Linked DNA regions of Homo sapiens: region 2 is linked to region 1. The links come from fine-mapping of genetic effects on gene expression. Tissue or cell type: whole blood. Region 1 holds a variant in brackets; the other region holds the start of a gene. All regions are shown on one strand. Distances are from middle to middle.

Region 1 (10,088 bases):
CAAACGTAGTACAACTCAGGGCATTTAGAATGTAGCTACATTTGGAACAGCATCTCTCACATCTTCTCCTGTCTTCCAGATGTTACTGAGTTGTTACCTTCTCATTCATAGCAGTTCAGCAATGAAGATTTAATTGAAATGTAAGAAAAAGGGTCCATTGGACAGTCACCATGGCAACTGCCCCTCCCACAATATTTACCATTCAAAGGCTTCTGCAGGCATTCATGTACAACCAATTAGCAAAGAAAGATTCCAGATTCACAACCCTAATTTTGAATGCAGTTTGAAGGTGCTTAGAGACATAAAGAATGCCTGTGCTTTCTATAGGGAGATTACTAGGAAAAGAATTGTCTTCAGTTCCAGCTTCTGTGGCAAGATGATTTGTTCAGACATTAGAGTATATTTTGTTTTTAGTGTAATTTTTCTTCCATTTCCACCATCTGCTGAGGGTTGCCAGCCCACAGTGCTTGCTGGTCTCAAGAGTGGTTTATATTCCTGGGCATAAGGCAGAAACTGCTTAAAGATCATCTCTAGTCTTGCCCTTAGTGAAAGCTCAAGCTCACTGAAGAGTTTTAAACTATAAATCTAAGTGGGGAGGGGCATGGCGAGGAGAAGCCAATTCTCTTTGGAGGCAAGAGGAGGAGTGAGCGAAAGCAGGAGATGCTCTGCAAAGAGGGCAGACCTGTAACCACTGCTGAAAACATCTAGGTTGGTGACAGAACCTGGTCGTGATGGCTGGAGCTCTTCAGGAAGTGCAGCCCTAGGCACTGGGATTCCCGGTCCTAACAAAAAATCCCAGTCTCAACGGCAGAAAAGACCAGTGGCTCGCCCACTTCCACAGGACCATATTTCTGACACCCTAAGGCATCTCAGCCCTAACCACTATGGCCTGAGGATTGTTGGTGCTTCCAGGCATATAACCCCTGGGATACATGAGTGACTTTATGGTATATTAGAGTGTCAGAAGAATCTTAACAGTAACTGAAGTTACGTTTTCTATCATTTTAGCTGGCCAAGAGCTTGAAATTATTTTTATTTTTAATAATGCGACATCCAATTTGACACATCAGTTTGTGGATTAAAATTTACATCCAGCGCACGTTTTTAGACTAGTATTGTTAAGAAGCCTCAGCCAGTTCAGCTCCTAACAAAAATCCTACCACACACACACACAAAGCACATTTGTGACATGGTTTTTATATTGTTTTTATTTTGCCCACTTAGTACTTTACAAACACATTTTGCTTTATTTCTTTTAATGTATTTTCATGATCAATTATAGAACTTTTATGGGAGAAAATAGGTTTCCTGAAAAGATACTTTGGTTATGACTTTTCATCAGTAGGGATTAAGTGTTAAGTATTTTGAAGTCTGACTTGTCATATTCGCCAGTTAGTTCAAATCAAGGATGGCCTGGATGGTTCTCTACTGCCCTCCAGTGGGAAAGCTAGATGGAGGTCAAAGCATTTTTGAAATGGAAAATGGACTGGTTTATGTGTCTCTAATATTGGGACGTAAAATATATAGACAGAAGGAGATAAAAGAACTGAAGGATGTTTTCTTCTCAGTGTGTTCAGAAATAAGTGAACTGTTGAACAATGAACCATTCAGCACCATGACTTCTTACAACTTCAAAAGGATATTGTAAATACTGTATTTAAAACCGAGGTCTTGGCCAGGCACGGTGGCTCTCGCTTGCCTATAATCCCAACACTTTGGCGGGCCAAAGCAGGAGGATCACTTGAGGTCAGAAGTTGGAGACCAGCCTGGCCAACACGGTGAAACCCCATCTCTACTAAAAATACAAAAATTAGCTGGGTGTGGTGGCATGTGACTATAATCCCAGTTACTTGGGAGGCTGAGGCAGGAGAATAGCTTGAACCTGGGAGGTGGAGGTTGCAATGAGCCAAGATTGCACCAGTGCACTCCAGCCTGGGTGACAGAGTGAGATTCTGTCAAACAAAAAACAAACAAACAAAAAAAAAACAAACAAAGAAGGAAGGAAAAAGAAAAAGAAAGATAAAATGGAGGTCTTTCTGCCAGGACAAAAATAGTACACAACTTTGAACTTAAACATTTTAAGCATTCTGAGTCTCTATGTATACTTATATAATCTTGCTTTACTTCTGTATAATTATTTAATTATGATCTTCTAGTCTATTATATATCATAACACCCTTATTTCTTCAAAGAAGACTATTAAAGGGCTATGAAGAAATTATGCGGCTTCTTAGTTTCTCCGTGAATCTGATTAATATCCGTGATAGGCTTGCATTAAAAAGTTTATTTTGTTTACAGAAAAAGTTTGCCAAACCCTGCTAAGTCAGAATTCCCACCACATTTGCATCCTGCTTTAACCAACTGATAGATATATTTTACAGTGAAGGAAAAACTTAGAAAAAGTACATTTTACTAACATAAAAACAAACAAAAAAAAACCAAAAATGGTTATACAAAAGGAGTGGATTAATCTCTGAATACTGACTGATTCTTACGTGCTCATTTCCCCCTGTACTTCTAAATATACTTCTAGAACTGATGTGTTTAAAACAGATTGATGTCTGTGTCAGGAGCAGGGCAATAAAATAAACTCAGTTGCTCAAAAAATTAGTTTATTTAGCATTTCTGCATTATTTAAATGAGTCTTATTCTATTCTTTTAAAAATCTGTCTTTAAAATATCCAAATTAACATATTAATCACTAACAGACAGTGGTGGTTATAAATAAAGGCTCTAATTATGTTGCATTTTTAAATATATTTTCAAAATATATTAATTCCTCTTGAACAAACAAAAAATATGAAAACACTCACCGCTCCCCTCTGGTAAACAAGATGCCAACTCTAGGGTACGGTGGAAAGACATACTGGATACTTTCACTGTGTTCAGCAAATGGATTGAACATGGAGCCAAAAACATGCGAAGCACTGGGACAATCTGAAAACAACAACAACAACAAAAAAAACAAGCTTTATCATTTCACAAGACCTTTTCCAGGTTGTAAAAGCAAGAGAGGAGGCAAGAAAAACAGAAAATTTCAAACTGATTTGAAAATTTTTAAAAAGTGATAGAGCCTGTATTACATAAAACTTATGAGACAGTTGACTCTAGGAAATTATAACACTTTGCCAATGTTTCCTGGGCAAGCTGATTATTAAAAATAATACCTAAAATATATTGAATATTTCCTGCATACTAAGTGCTATGCTAAGATCATCTCATTTGAATTCAGAAGACCCATATGAAATGGGTACCATTTTTATTACCATTTTACAGATAAAGAAATTGAAGATGAGAGAAACTGGCCAGGCACAGTGGCTCATGCCTACAATCCCAACACTTTGGGAGGCCGAGGTGGGCAGATCACTTGAGGTCAGGAGTTCGAGACCAGCCTGGCCAACATGGCGAAACCCTGACTCTACTAAAAATACAAAAATTAGCCAAGCTATGGTGGCGGGCGCCCGTAATCCCAGCTACTGGGGAGGCTGAGGCAGGAGAATTGCTTGAACCTGGGAGGTGGAGGTTGCAGTGAGCTGAGATAGCGCCACTGCACTCCAGCCTGGGTAACAGAAGGAGGTTGCATCTTGAAAAAAAAAAAAAGAGAGAGAGAGAGAAAACTTAATTAACTTGCTCAGGTAATTGGCAGAAGAAAGATCAAACTTCAGAGGATGATTTAACAATAGCAAGTCTGGTTTGTTTGGAAGCAGAAGCCTTCTAAAACTCTTATTTACTTTTTATATTTACTTTTTATATTTACTACATTTTTGTTTATTAGACATGTGAGGTTTCTTTCCAGATGTTAAACTTTTTTCATGTACAATCTACATTTTATTGCACAAAAATGCTTAAAACAAAGATTCGAGACTCAAAGAGAACAGAACTACAATATACCTCAGAAGTACCTTGTGAGAAAAGCATTGTTATTACTATTTTACAGATTAGTTAAGACCTTGGGGGCTTGGAGAGATAATGTGAATTCTCAAAGGGCAAAGGCTGACCTAGGACTTGAACCACATCATGTGAATAACTTCAGGTGTGTAAGATTGACTTGAGAATATTCCTTAGGTCATGGCACATGGCTATCATTAGGCATTCACAGGGAATCTGAGAGATTATATGAACACATCACAGTACAGCTGGCCCTCAATATCCATGGGTTCCACATCTGTGGATTCAAGCAACTGCAAATAAAAAATATTTGAAAAAAACTCAAGAGTTTTTTTCTTGTTATTGCCTAAACAATATAGTAGAACTACTATTTACATAGCATTTACATTGTATTGGGTATAAGTAATCTAGAGATAATTAAAAGTATAGGATGGGCATGGTGGCTCACACTTGTAATCCCAGCACTTTGGGAGGCCAAGGTGGGCAGATCACAAGGTCAGGAGTTCGAGACCAGCCTGGCCAACATAATGAAACACCATTTCTACTAAAAATACAAAAATTAGCAGGCATGGTGGTGTGCATCTGTAATCCCAGCTACTCAGGAGGCTGAAGCAGGAGAATTGCTTGCACCCAGGAGGCGGAGGTTGCAGTGAGCCGAGATCGCACCACTGCATTCCAGCCTGGACAACAGAGTGAGACTCCATCTCAAAAACAAAACAAAACAAACAAAAAAACTATACAGGAGGCAACAAAATACCAGCAAATAGAATTCATCAGCACATTAAAAAGATCGTTCATTATGACCAAGTGGAATTCAGCCCAGAGATGCAAGGACGGTTCAACATATACAAATTAATTAAGGTGATACAACATATTAACAGAATAAAGGACAAAAATCATATGATCATTTCAATTGATGCTGAGAAAGCATTTGATAAAATCCAACATCCCTTCATGATAAAAAAAAATCCTCAAAGAACTGGACATAGAAGGAACATATCTCAACACAGTAAAAGCCATATACAACAGACCTATGTCAGTATCAGACTAAATGCAGAAGAACTGAAAGTCTTTCCTCGAAGATCTGGAACACAACAAAGATGTCCACTTTCATCACTGTTATTGAATATTTTAATAGTAGTCAGTGTCCTAGCTAGAGCAACCCAGTAAGAGAAATAAATAAAAGGCATACAAATTGGAAAGAAAGAAGTCAAATTATCTTTGTTTGCAGATATGATCTTACATTGGGAAAAACTTAAAGACTCTATCAAAAAACTATTAGAACTGATAAACAAATTCAGTAGAGTTGCAGGATATAAAAATCAACATAAAAAATCAGTAGCATTCCTGTATGTCAATAGTGAACAATCTGAAGGAAGGTAATTCTATTTACAATAACAACAAATCAAATAAAAACCAAGAATAAACTTAATCAAAAAAGTAAAAGATCTCTATAATGAAAACTATAAAATGTTGATAAAGGAAATTGAAGCAGACACACAAAAAATAGAAAGATATACCATGTTCATGGATTGGAAGAATTAATATTGTTAAAATGTCCATACCACCAAAAGCAATCTACAGACTCAATGCAATCCCTATGAAAATAACAATAACATTCTTCACAGAAATAAAAAAAAATCCTAAAATTTATACGGAACCATGAAAGGCCCAGAATAGCCAAAGCCATCCTAAGCAGAAAGAACAAAACTGAAGGAATCACATTACCTGACTTCAAATTATATTACAGAGCCATAGTAACAAAAACAGTATGGTACTGACACAAAAACAGACACACAGACCAAGGGAACAGAATAGAGAATCCAGAAATAAATCCATACATCTACAATGAACTCACTTTTGATAAAGGTGCCAAGTACATACACTGGGGAAAGGACAGTCTCTTCAGTAAATGGTGCTGGGAAAACTGGATATCCATATGCAAAAGAATGAAACTAGGCCCCTATCTCTTGCCGTATATAAAAATCAAATCAAAATGGATTAAGGACTTAAATCTAAGACCTCAAACTATGAAACAACTAAAGGAAAACATTGAGGAAACTCTCCAGGACATTAGTCTGGGCAAAATTTTTTCTTTTTTCTTTTTTTAGAGATGGGATCTCCCTATGTTGCTCTGGCTGAAGTGCAGTGGCTATTCACAGGTGTGATCCTGGTACTGATCAACATGGAAGGTTTTTTTTTTTAGATGGAGTCTCGCTCTGTTGCCCAGGCTGGCGTGCAGTGGCACAATCTCAGCTCACTGCA[A/G]GCTCCGCCTCCCGGGTTCATGCCATTCTCCTGCCTCAGCCTCCCGAGTAGCTGGGACTACAGGCACCCGCCACCACGCCTGGCTAATTTTTTGTATTTTTAGTAGAGACAGGGTTTCACCATGTTAGCCAGGATGGTCTCAATCTCCTGACCTTGTGATCCACCCGCCTTGGCCTTCCAAAGTGCTGGGATTACAGGCGTGAGCCACTGTGCCTGGCAACATTGAAGTTTTGACTTGCTACATTTCTGACTTGGGCTAGTCCAATCCTCCTTAGGCAACCAGGTGGTCTGGTCCCCTGCTCCTGGGAGGTCACCACATTGATGCCAAATTTAGTGCAGAAACTTGATTGGCATAGTGCGTTATAGCCCAGAACTCCTGGACTTAAGCAATCCTCCTGCGTCAGCTTTCTGCACTCAGCAGATTTCTTTTTATTTTTTTTTAGAGACAGAGTCTCACTCCGTAGCCCAGGCTGGAGTGCAATGGCACAATATCAGCTCACTGCAACCTCCGCCTCCCAGGTTCAAGAGATTCTCACGCCTCAGGCCTCCCAAGTAGCTGGGATTATAGCCATGCCCCACCACATCTGGCTAATTTATGTATTTTTAGTAGAGACGGGATTTTGCCATGTTGGCCAGGCTGATCTCAAACTCCTGGCCTCAAGTGATCTACCCGCCTCGGCCTCCTAAAGTGCTGAGATTACAGGCAAGAGCCACCACACCTGGCCAAGCAGATTTCTTGAGTAATATCCCAAAAGCACAGACAATCAAAGAAAATGGATAAGTGGGATCACGTCAAGCTAAAAAGCTTCTGCACAGCAAAGGAAATAATCAACAAAGTGAAGAGAGAATACATAGAACGGGAAAAAATATTTGCAAACTATCCATCTGACAAGTGGTTAATAACCAGAATATATAAGGAACACAAACAACTCTGTAAGAAAAAATCTAATAATCCAATTAAAAATGGGCAAAAGATCTGAATAGATATTTCTCAAAAGAAGACATACGAATGAAAAGGTGCCCAACATCACTGATCATCAAAGAAATGCAGATCAAAACTATATTATCTCACCCCAGTTAAAATGGCTTTTATCCAAAAGACAGGCAATAACAAATGCTAGTGGAGAAAAGGGAACCCTCATATACTGTTAGTGGGAATGTAAATTAGTACAGCCACTCTGGAGAACAGTATAGAAGTTCCCTCAAGAAACTGAAAATAGAACTACTATACGATCCAGCAATCCCACTGCTAGGTATATAGCCAAAAGAAAGGAAATCAGTATATTGAAGAGATATCTGCACTCTCATGTTTATTGCAGCTCTACTCATAATAGCCAAGATTTGGAATCAACCTAAGTGTTCATCAACAGACAAGTGGATAAAGAAAATGTGGCACGTGTATACGATAGAGTACTATTCAGCTACAAAAAGGAATGAGATCGTGTCATTTGCAACAACGTGGATGGAACTGGAGGACGTTATGTTAAGTGAAATAAGCCAGGCATAGAAAAACAAACTTTGCATGTTATTACTAATTTGTAGGAAGTAAAAATTAAAACAATTGAACTCATGGAGATAGAGTAAAATGATGGTTACTAAAAGCTGTGAAGGGTAGTGGTGGGGGTCAGGGAAGTGGGTATCATTAATGGGTACAAAAATATAGTTAGATAGAATGAATAAAACCTAGTATTTGATAGCACAAGAAGGTGACTACAGTCATTTATAATTTGTTGTATGTTTTAGAATAACTAAGGGAGTACAATTGGAATGTTTGTAACGCAAAGAAATATGAATGTTTCAGGTAATAGATACGCCATATACCCTGATGTGATTATTGCACATTGTATGCCTCTATCAAAGTATCTCATGTACCTCATAAATATATATACATCTACTATATACCTATAAAATTAAAAATAAAAAAAATTAAACTGTACAGGAGGATGTGCTTAGGTTATATGCAAACACTATCCCATTTTATATCAGAGACTAGAGTATACTTGGATTTTGGTATCAGAGGAGGTCCTGGAACAAATCCCCCATAGATATTGAGGGATGACTGTACTTATAATGGGGGATAGAAATGAGAATGGGAGCCGAAAATAAAGAAGGATGTTAAACCTTTCATATTATCTAGGAGTTTTGGCAGAAGTCTTAAAAGCTGAAAACAATGTAATAGGTGTCAAGGCTTCTTACATTTTGAATAACGAAACCAATCTTTTCATAAAGAAAATGCTAAAAAGATTGTTAAAGGAATTCTGCCAGGACAAGCCTCCTAGCAATTTTGTAAGAGAAGGCAAAGAATTAAATGGTAGATTGAAGAGGGTGATGGTAAGAATATCTTTGTGAGAGCTGTGAAGGCGCTGTGACATTTCCACTCCCCATGAGGAAGAGAAGGTGTATTAGTTATCTTTTGTTGCAATGCAAATTATCCCACAACTTAGCCACTTAAAACAATAATAAACATTTATTGTTTCACACAGTTTCTGTAGTTCAGGAATTCAGGAGCAGTTTAGGTGGTTGGTTGTAGCTCAGAGTTTCATGAGGTTGCAGTCAAGATGTTATCTGATTAGTCAAGCTGAGGTTACATGAACATACTTTAACTATAGAAGTGAGTAACTATCCTCATTTTCTATAGTGGGAGTATTGCTCACCACAACCAAGACACATACAGTGAGGAATTCCACACACATAGAAAGAGGGCTCAGATGATAAACAGCAGAAAATAAAACCACAAAAATGTCAAACACAAAGTCATCCCTTTGGTTGCCCAACACCAATATAACCATTGCTTCCAATGTTTACATTTCAAAAAAGTGTTGCCACTTAAAATATTGCAATTTTCCTTTATACAATCAAAGATGCACTCACACTGTCACTCTCCAAGGAAGTCAATCCAATGTGTCATCAGTTACCACATCCATCAACCCAATTCCAAGTCTAGAACCATCCATCACCAAGTCTAGTTGGTGGCCATTCTTCTTCAAGTTCTGTACTGATTTCGTATCCACATTCTGATACTTATGGACTAAATAATGAAGTTTACAACAGTATCACACCCTACATACAATAGTGAAGTATAAAGGCTAAAGAAAAGTGAAAACACATAAAAGAATACATGAAACATTAAAAAATACATAAACAAGATGACAACTCTCATTTCTTCCCCTGATCATAAGGCCTTCCCTCCATTTATGACTTCCTTTCTCTACTAGCGATTCCATGTTCCTTTTACTTTCAGCCAATACCTTCATTTCTAAGGGATCCAAGCATTTGGTAGATCTATCTGTTTAAAGATATACCAGCAGAACTATTTTTTTTGCTTGATGATAAGTTTAATAACATCAATCAATACCATAACCTTCTTCCTCTCTTTCACCTTCTTCTTCTCTTGCTTATCCAATGATAGATGACATGGAAAATGGTCAGATGGCAGTCTCAGCTCCAAATCAAAGAAATCATTGTTTAGCCCTTGCTGGAGGAACTCCTTTCTTTAGAAACAAACCTCTAAAACCACCGAAGCCCAGAATTTCAGAGAATGGAAGTCTAAAAAATTGTTTTAAGTGGGTCATTAGGTATAATATCCCTTTGTTTCTGAATCTATTTATTTTGCCTATGGCAGTGTGATGGTTTTAAAATACATCCACAAACACACAATGAACCCTCTCCTGCAGACTCCCTGGGACCTAAGCTGTCACGGCATGGTACCATTTTGGGAAAGAAGCCACTGCTGAAGTACATCCTGCCCCAGGATCCAATGGCCCTATGTCTCCAATATCCCTGGGGCCCTGCGGTCATTCCACCATGCCCATACAGAAGACTGAGTGCCAGTATCCCAGCCAGACCTAGCAGTAGAGCCATGACTCTAGCACTAAAGCCCACATAGCACTCTGTGCTCCAGGAAGCAGGTAGTCCAGCACAGTAAGGAGGTCACC
Region 2 (9,875 bases), 74 kb after region 1:
CTCCTGCACCTATCCCACAGCAAAGACCACAGTCACTGCGCCAACCCTGGGACTCTCCAAGTAGCCCTCTCCCCCATTTCAGGAACCATCAGCACTCCCAGTGTGCCAGCCAGAACACATGTCTGGCATGAACTGTTCCGGACATTCTCAGGGTTCACTCCATGGCCTCTTGCTACCTTCCTGGGCACAAATTTTCCTCTTAGGAAAATGGCTCCTTCCTGATTATGATCCACAGATGCTTTCAGAAATGGCTCACAGCCCAGGACATCCTTAGGGGCTCCCAGGAGGCAATATGGAGACAGGCTGGCCCAGGCCTGTGGGAATGCTGCTCTAGAGGGCTAGGCTAGGGTTGGCCGGAAAGCCAAAAGGGTTTACCAGAAAGGTTTAGACTGGACCAGAAGGGAGGGCCCTGACGTGCAGTGGAAGTGGGCAGGCCTCGGGAGGGATACACCCAGGGCTGTACCCAGAAAGAGGGAGTGGGAAAAGCAGCTTGCAGCCAGGTCCCAGCTTGCACCCCAGCCTCTGGGGTGGGAGACCCAGGCTCAGTCCAGCAGGTAATGAAAGCCACTGGCAGAGAAGCAGACCCCAGGGGTAGAACTAGGCCTGAGCCAGGGAGCCCAGTGAGTGGGCAGTGCCAATCCCCACAGCCTGGCTCTGGACTGAGGAGCCCCCCAGTGGCTCAGCTGCCCTACCAGCCTCATAGTGTAGCCTCCATGCCTGTGCAGGACACCTCCTCCAGGAAGCATTCCCATTTCCAGGGTGCTCCCTGCCCCTCCCTGAACTCCCCACCTCACTGCTGTCTCCAAAAGCACAACAACCAGGCTTTGCAGGCTGTGGCAGAAATCCATCCCAAAAGCCCCATATACAGAGCCTGGCTTAAACAATGCAGGCTTTGTCCCAAGGCCCTAGACCCGAAGATGGGCCCACACCCTCAGGTCTTTGGCTGCGGGCATTTGATAACCTGTTGGCGTAGACACCAGCCAGACCCAGCCCAGAGGGCACAGGACCTAGGCTCTTGCTGCCTCCTCATGGGAAAGGCCCTGTGGCTCCTGCTACATACCAGCCCCTCCAGGTTTGGATTCCCCAACCTGAAGGAGAGCTCATGAAGACTAGGCTGAGAACAAACCGCTGAGATCAAGGCCAGTTTGCCCCTGGAATTAGGATTCCCTTCTGGCAGCATCACCAACTGAGCCCCTCCTTATCACCTCCAGAAGCTGCCATGGCTTCCAAAGGGAGTGAGTGCGGCCCAGAAATCAGATCTGGGCCTAGTTGGCCTGGCCCAGTAGGCAAGCTGCTCCCAGGCCCCGCTGCAGGGGAGCTCTGGGCCCTGCCCTCTAACCCTTCAGGTGAGGGGATCTTTCGAAAACCACAGGACAGGACAGTTATTCAGGAATAGCTTGGGGACAATGCCCCTCCCTAATCAGGGCCACCTCCAAATCACTCCACGTCAGGTGCCTGCCTACTTCCCTCCCCACTCCCCAGTATTGCATGTCAGCTGCTCTCCATCATGAATGAGGTCCAGAGGGTCAGGCCCCAGGCCTGGCCTCCTTGACCCACCCAATACCTCCACCACCCTCTCCTGTGGCTTTGTCCTCTGCTTGGCTACACTCCACTTCTCTCACCTGGGGCCTCATCACTACTCACTATGGCTCCGCAGCTGAAATAATCTATGCTGCTGCCCACTGTACGGCTCCCCCTGCAGAAACCACTGCCTGCCATCCAGCTCCCTCAGGGGCTCCCATCACAGCCTGCCCCAAGGCCCTATAGTGCTGCTTTTCCTCATGCTCCCACCCTATTTTTCCCAATCAGGGAACCTAATGGAACTCACAGTGATCACAACTTACACTTACTAAGGGCTGGTTGGCTGAGTGCCAGGGCATGGCACCACCTCACCTGCTTTATGTGTCATTTAACCTTTTTAATAACCTCAAATGACAAATGAGACCAAGTACTCAATAATTCAGTAATTTGACCCCAGGAAATCCAACCCAGAGCCCTCCCCCTAACCACTGCCCTCTCCTAACAGCTGTTTCCTGGTGAATCTGCCACTACTCTAAGCTCGCTGAGGGCAGCGACTTCTCCAAAGTATTGGGCACGCAGCGAGGTGCCAATATTTCTAGAATGCAGCACAGCTGTTCTTCAGTGTTGTTAAAGGTAAGTAGGTCATGTCACTCCTCCATTTAAAACCTCCTGATGGTTTTACATCTCAGAATAAAATCTTAAATCTTCAGGACAACAGGCAAGGTCCTACACGGTCTGCTCTGGTCTCCTCCTCACACTGGCCACACCATCCAAGCACACCAGCCTCACCTGGCATTTCCTCAAACACACAAGCACAACCTACCTCGGGGCCTCTGCACAAGCTGGTCCTTCTGCCTGGAATACTACTATTCCCCTAAATATCTGTATTGTCCACTCTTTACTTCCTTCAGAAGCATCTGTTCGAATGTGACTTGAGAAGAGGCCCTTCCTGACCACTCTATCAAAAATAGCACCCACTCACCATTCTGTATCCCCTTAACCTGCTTTATTTTTATCACTGGTAATTACCACCTACCATGTATTTTTTCATTTCCCTTCTTTCCCTACCATCATCCAAATGTCAGCTCCAGAACAGGGACCATGTTTGTTCTGTTCACTGCTTTATCTCTAGAGCCTTAGAATTCTGCCTGCCAGAGTAGGAGCTCAAAACTTTGTTTTTGTGACTGACAACCTCTGATCCCTGGTCCCTCTCCAATTTGTCCCTCTCCATCAGGCAGGCCCCTCCCGTCTTCGAAGCTCCCATCATCGCCCCACCCCTCCTCTTGCCAATATCCTGAGTTCCTTTGCCTTTAATCAAACCTGTTGGAAGACGCTCCTGGCTGGATGCATTCCACTGTCCACGCTTGCTGTTTGGTGTCTCACCATAAGAAAGCCCATTCCCAAGCACAAATCCTGTCAACTCTGGGTTCTCCAAGCCAGCCTGGTTTTCACGTTAAGAAACTTTTAGCCCTCTCATGTGGTTAGCTGGCAACAGACCCTACCTTCAAAACACACAAACCGACAAGCTTGCCTGTCTCCACTCATCTCTGCATCCAGCTGCCTTTCACTAGGGAAAGGGGGGGTGCAGGGACGCCTCTTCCCCGCAGCGCTCCGGGGTCAGAGACCCCCAGCCCCTCTCACCTACATTATAGCCCTTCCCTCACCGCAGGCACAAATCTCCATCCGGCTGCGGGACCCTCTCCTCACCCTCACAGCACACTCCGTTCTAGGAACCCCACTCCGTCTCCACTCTCCGGAAGCCTGCTCGCCCAGACCTCCATGTAGCGGCATCTAAAGGCTGGGACCCTCCCCAGCTGCAAACGCTCTCCTCGAGGATTCTGCAGCACTCTCCCGGCCCTCCCGCTCCCCACTATCCCGTGGCTGGTTTGCACCGGTCCTCTACCCTCGGAAGCCCTTACGACCCTACGACTGGCAGGACGCGCGCCGACGGGCTCCCCCGCAGCTGCGTCCACTCGGTTAACCCCGGCCCCCGGGACTGTCCTCGGCGTGGCTGACTCTCTTCCCAGGCCCAGCACGGAGAGCGGCCCGCGGCAGGCGAGCGTAAATGTGTGCTAAGTGCACGAGTGCGTCCCGACTGGTAGTGGTGCATTCTTCACCCGGGAGGAGCGCCATTCCCGGCGGCCGGACCAGGAAAACGCTCCGCTTCCGGCACTGCTGGCACTTGGGGCGGGCGCTGGGCCCGACCGCGGCCGCGGACTAGCCAGGGTCCGGGAGTCCCGCGAGGCCGCCTCTCCCAGGAGGCTCCCACCGGGCAGGGGGCACCTCCCGCCACCCAGGCGGAAACACTCGGGCCGGGACCCCGCCGCAGTCGCCAGCCAGCCGGCGACCGGACGCCCGGGCGCGGGGTTGCGGGCGCCTCGCCAAGGTCACCGGCGCCGCGGCGGCAACTCACCCCGTGGAGGTGGAAGCCCTCGGCGCCGCCTGCGGGCTGCTCAGCGCTGACGCCCAGGCCCATGGCAGCGGCTCCGCTCGGCACCCAGGTCCAGTCCCGCTGCGCCTACCCGGACCGACCCGACGCCAGTAGCACCGACTCGCTCTCTCGGCGCTCGATTCCTGCGCCTTGTGACGTGAGGCGTTTTGTTCCTCCCACTCCAGACACTGGACGCTCCTAGCAACCGGCTAGCAGCTCGGTTTCCAAGGACTGTAACGCCTTCAACCGCCCGCCGCGATAGAGTGCCCACGACCCTGCCTCGGGAATCCCGCTCTGCACCGCCCCACCAGACCCGGACTCGGAGCCGCGAGCGGCCCGAGATGAGCAGCAATGACTCCTCCCTTATGGTGCGTGGCCCGGGCGCTGTCCGAGGGCTCCCTCGTGACTCCCCGCCCCTGACCCAGAGACCGTCTGCCCTGCTACTCTCCTGCCACCCTTCGCTGTCCTCAGTTATATCAGGCGGTCCTGCCTTTTCTTGCCCCACTCCCCCTGGCAAGGGCGTCTTCTCCGGTGGCTTCTGCGCACCCTGAGCCCCAAATTAGCATCCCCGTTTCTTGAGCTACCCCAAACCAGCTCATCCAATCACTATCATTATCCCTTCTTGTCATCATCCCTTCTTCCACCCAGCTCACTCTCGCCTGCGCCTCCCACCCCAGTTGATGGCTTCACCATTTAATCTCCTAGCCTTAACTCATACCTCTTCCCTATACTCATCTTCTAATCCTGTCTACAAGAAATGCCAGCTCCTTGATGTCTCCTGGGTTTTCTTTTTATCTTTTTATCTTCTAGCCCAGAACCAGCACCATCTCTCCCCCCTGAGAGCCTGCAACAGCCTCCCTCCCATCTGGTTTCTCTGCTGTGGCTCTTTTCAGCATCAGTAGTCCCTGCTGCCACCACGGCACACACCCCCCACATGCAAAAGCAGCCAGAGTGGTTGTTGCAAAAATGTACATCTGAAAACATCCCTCGCCTTAAAACCATTCTGCTTTCTGTTACCCTTAGGATGGTGTCTGGGCTCTTTCATATGGCCCATGAGGATGTTTACAGTCCAACCACATCTGCTCCCAACCTAGCACCCACAAACCTTAGAGGAAGTGAAACTTAACTTTAAAATCTCAGCCCCTTTGTCAAGCTGTAGTTTCCATGGGCTTAAGCTTCCTTAGCTGTGAAAGATACTGAGAGGACCATGCACAGGATAGTGGATATGAAGCCCACAATAACTTGTAACTACAATTCGTATAATTTTTCTTATTATTTGTCCTCATTTTTCCCCCCTTATTCCCTTCCTAAGACAAAGCCTTGGTTGAATTCCCCATCATAGTTGAACCAGAATCTGTTGGTAATCCCCCAAACAAACACCTCCAAACTCTTTCCTGGGAAAACTGCATGGAGCTGCTCCCAGGGCTGTTAGAGGACAGGATGAGGCCTGAATGTTTCCTCTTTCTCTTCCCTTTGCAGAACTGAGGAGGAGCAGGGGATAGGGAAGGGAGCAGGTCTCATCCCATCTGGGACAGAACAGAGACAGAGAAGGGACTGGGCTATTGCAGTTATGTCTTCCTTCATACAGGCTGGGATCATTTACTATAGCCAGGAAAAGTACTTCCACCATGTGCAGCAGGCTGCAGCTGTGGGCCTGGAAAAATTCAGCAATGACCCTGTGTTGAAGTTCTTTAAAGCCTATGGAGTCCTCAAAGAAGGTAAGGACTTGGCAGTGTTGGTCTTGTGACCCCAGGCACTAGCTGGGCCCTAACACTCTGGCTCCACCTGGATGCCTTCTTGTATCCTAGTTATGGTCCCATAAAAACAGTTTCACACTCAGCGGCTGGATTCCCACGGGAATCCACAGAGGCCTACGTAATCCATATCTAGTTGACTTTTGAGACCTCAGAGCGCTGACTATCCCTGCTCTGCACCTCGGGTTCCCTCTCTGTAAAATGAGTGGTTGGAGAGATAGCTGCATGATTCTTGAAGTAATTCCAGGCCTGGAAGCTGAGAACTGGTAATGCAGGCAAAGGAGGGGGAAGAGGTAGGTGTGAGGACAGGTGGGTATGGTACAGGTACAGGGAGAGGAGTGAGACCCATGCAGGTGCAGATGGGCTGACATTCAGAAGGTGGTCCTAGGCTGAGGACTGGCAGAATAGCCCATGGCCAAATGTCTGAGGACATGGAGGGATAAATGTAATCAGTGGCTCTTGAGCAGTAGCTGAGAATGCCCTGCCTGAGGTCCTTCTTCAGAACTGACGCAGCTAATAATTGCAGCCTCACACATATCCCCACAAGTACTCACAGGGTGAACCTTTCAAGTCCAAGATTTCCAGCCCCTAACAGCCTGGACCATGTTACCAGCAACTCTTTCAAAGAGCCCCAATCTTCAGGGAACTTGGGTCACTGGGGACCTTTCAGACCAGTTAGTCCAGCAGGTAGTAGTGCTGAGCTGTTGGGTCAGCTACAGAGTCTCATGTCCTCTAGTCCTGGAGCTTGAGAGTATAACTATGTGGACTGTCTTTGCAGAGCACATCCAGGATGCCATCAGTGACCTGGAAAGCATCAGGCATCACCCAGACGTGTCCCTGTGCTCCACCATGGCCCTCATTTATGCTCACAAAAGATGTGAAATCATTGGTGAGTGCCACCATGCTCAACCAGGCCTGACCCACCAGGGGAAGGAAAGCCCTGCCCCAGAGATAACACAGCCCCTCAAGGGCTGCCAAAGGAGGTATGTGCCCTGGTGGCTGTGCAGATGCTGTTAACCAGTGAGAAGTGGCTGCTGCTCCTCTCCCCCTGGAGGCCTGGGAGAAGACTCCATGCCTGGGCCCAACTGAGTGGAAGCAGGCAGAGCCCATGACAGTGGGAGGGGCCCATGCTCCAGATCCCAAGAGTTGGGGAAACACCCTTCTTCTTTGCCAAGATCTTGTCAGAAAAACCAAGCCAATATATATAATTCTACCCCTAATCTCCACATTTCTAGAGTCAGGGAGAGGGTCCAAGAGAGACTACAGACTACTATTTCCCTACTCACAATAAGTTGTGGGCCTGAGGCTAAGGATTTTGGTTTGGCCTGCCTGCTCAGCACACTGCTGGGCACAGAGAAGAGAAGGTAATCTCAGACAGCACACGTGAGTCCACACCAGGGCAGCCCCTGCAGCATCTCAAGGGCAGGTACTGCTGGTTTCCAGGCCTTGGGCTGCATGCGGTGTGCTGCATATGTTGAAGGAGATCCACAGTGTCTGGGGGAGACCCCGAGGTAGTTCCCTGGGCCCTCGGTGGCCCATGCAGAACCAGGCAGACTTCCACATCCTAACTCTCCCTCTTCCTTCGCTCTTGGATTTACAGACCGAGAAGCAATTCAGGAGCTTGAGTACAGCCTGAAGGAAATACGCAAGACAGTCAGTGGGACTGCACTGTACTATGCTGGCCTTTTCCTCTGGCTCATAGGCCGCCATGACAAGGCCAAAGAGTACATTGACCGCATGCTGAAGATTTCTAGAGGCTTCAGAGAGGTACTTACCACACCATGGGGACAACAGGCGAAGAAAGCAGCATCCAAACACATAATAGCAGGGTGGCCCTCATTCCCACAAAGGGCCCTGAAACTGGGGGAGAGCCACACCCAGGCACTGGCAAAACACCGGGTCTCACAGTTGCCCCACGCGTGTTGTCTCTGGGCTTAGCAGAGGTTACACATTGGCATTTGTACACAGAGTCTGATCTTTAGATAGATTTTCTATGGCTTGCACCATATTCTTAAGAAATTTTTTTTTGAGACCTCACTGCAGCCTCAACCTCCTAGGCACAAGCAATCCTTCCACCTCAGCCCCCCAAGTAGCTGGGACCATAGGTGTGTGCCAGCATGCCCAGCTAGTTTTTACATTTTTTGTAGAGACTGGGTCTTGCCATGTTGCCCAGGCTGGTCCAGACTTACTGGTTCTTTTGAAGACCCAGATGAGCTGGCCACACTGGGCCATTCCCTCCCTGTAATGCTCTGCTGGAACTGAATGGTGGCTCATGCAGTGCAGCCCATATACTGTATATCTGCACTAATATGGAATTTGAAGCCTCAGTCTAGGCCATGCCTTCTCAGCAGGGCTGATACCAATTTTCAAGGGTGTAGACATGGTCCCTGGGGGAGAGGGTGAAAAAAATCTTACTCTTTATGTATAAAACACAGATATATATACAGTACACAATACACAGATACGGTATATCTGAGGCACTAACATTTCTTGGAAGGGGAGGGATTGATTAGAAAACAGTATCTAAAGAGACTCCTTAGGATAGATAATAGAAAAAGAGAAATAGAACTATAATAGAGAAATACTGATCTAGGCCATCAAGAGGGGTGCTTTAGGGCAGGGCTCTTCCAAGTCTGCTTCCCAGGCCTGGCCCTCCCCATCTGCCTGGAGAGGCTGGGTGAAGGCTAACATGGAACCAGCGAGGTCCACGAGCTCAGAACGGCTCCTGCTCACCCACTCAGAGGGCATTCCTTGGCTTCCTATGCAGGGCCAGGCCTCGTGCTGGCCTAAGGAGTGGAGACATCAAGAGTGGCCTTGCGTAGGCCCCCATGTTGGCTCCTGACCCCAGTGTAAACAGGCAATGACAGGATAGGTGAGTGTGCCTCAGTAAGGGTCATGGAGAGCTGTAGGGGTACAGGGAGGGAGGCCTCCTAAGCAGGGGCCTCTGAGGCTGAGTTGTAAGTAGTGGTAATGGACATTAGGTGAAGGGGTTTGGTTGGGAGTGGGAGGGGCGCTGTCCAGGGCATTTCCAGACAAAGCAACAATGGGAGTCCTGGCCATGAGAGAGAGCTGGCTGCCCTGGGATCTGCACGGGACTGTGCCTGGCAGGGCCTCAGGGTTTTGGGTGGCAAAGTGTGGATCATGTGCAGGCTGAGTTGATTCTGTGCAGGACCAAGGACTTCATCTTTCATCTTGTTCTCATCCCAGGCCTATGTGCTCAGAGGCTGGGTGGACCTGACCTCAGACAAGCCCCACACTGCGAAGAAAGCCATTGAGTACCTGGAACAAGGAATTCAGGACACCAAAGATGTGCTGGGGCTGATGGGAAAGGTGGGCAGTGGAAAAGGGAGAGGTGGAAGTATTCCTGGCCAGGCCACTGGAACCAGAGACCCACCAGGTACCCCCAGGCCAAACCCTCGTAGTCTCCAGATGCCTCATCTCGTAGATAAAGAGCAGAGGCCCAGAGAGGTTCAGCAACCAATCCAGGGTTACACAGCAGTCCAAGGTCCACTCTACTTCTCAGATTTCTTCCTGCTTGATCTGAGTTTCTGTCTCATTTGCATGGGGGTCTTCTCAGGGTCACTTTCTTAAGGTCTATCCTTCCTTGACCCTCTCAGGCTTTCTCTCTGCCTCTGTGTTAGTTTCACTCAGTGCCCTTCTCCCTTTCTTCTTTTATTTTGACCTTCCCATTTCACTTCTTTCTACCTGTTAAATTCATTTAGTGTGCCGTAAGAGAAGGGAGGTATATATTTTATATGTTCTGTGTTTTCTGATCTTAAGTTTCTTTTTTCTCTTGTGAACCTCATGGAATTAATCTTTGAGAGAAAAAATGTCCTCGTATTTTCTTCTGTTTGCATATATTTTTATTATAAAAGAATACATACTTATTTAAGAAAACAGAAGCCTAAAAAAAGTCAACAGATGAATTAAAATGGCAGGCTTAGTCTTACCGCTCCAAGACAAATGTTAGTATTTTAGGGCAATGTCTTCTAGTCTTCTTTCTATACTTGGGTCCAGGGTGTGTATTAGGTTGGTTTTCTGGCTGGCAGAAAGCAATGGAGATTATTGTGAGCCAGCTTATCACAGAGCACCCTTGGGGCCAGCACCTGTGGAAAGAGAAGGCGGGCTGTGAATAGTCACAGCAAAGGCCACAGCCTACTCTTTGGGGA

What was found. PIP is the estimated chance that this variant, and not a neighbour inherited with it, causes the effect.
Region 2: GORASP1 starts here. The variant in region 1 is fine-mapped to the expression of GORASP1 in whole blood (TOPMed, PIP above 0.99).

The regions. Positions count from the first base shown.
Region 1 is chr3:39,029,567-39,039,654 of GRCh38, forward strand. SCN11A (sodium voltage-gated channel alpha subunit 11) reads right to left here. Exons shown (of 30, transcript NM_001349253.2): 2 at 2,814-2,937. Among named protein-coding and RNA genes, the nearest start is that of SCN11A, 17 kb to the right of the region's middle. The variant A/G (reference allele first, on the strand shown) is at 6,154.
Region 2 is chr3:39,103,545-39,113,419 of GRCh38, forward strand. GORASP1 (golgi reassembly stacking protein 1) reads right to left here and starts at 4,083. Exons shown (of 9, transcript NM_031899.4): 1 at 3,935-4,083; 2 at 1-9. The coding sequence starts at 3,997. It overlaps TTC21A (tetratricopeptide repeat domain 21A), which reads left to right and starts at 4,136. Exons shown (of 29, transcript NM_001366900.1): 1 at 4,136-4,320; 2 at 5,541-5,670; 3 at 6,485-6,595; 4 at 7,307-7,473; 5 at 8,914-9,036. The coding sequence starts at 4,294. RefSeq lists a silencer at 3,713-4,032.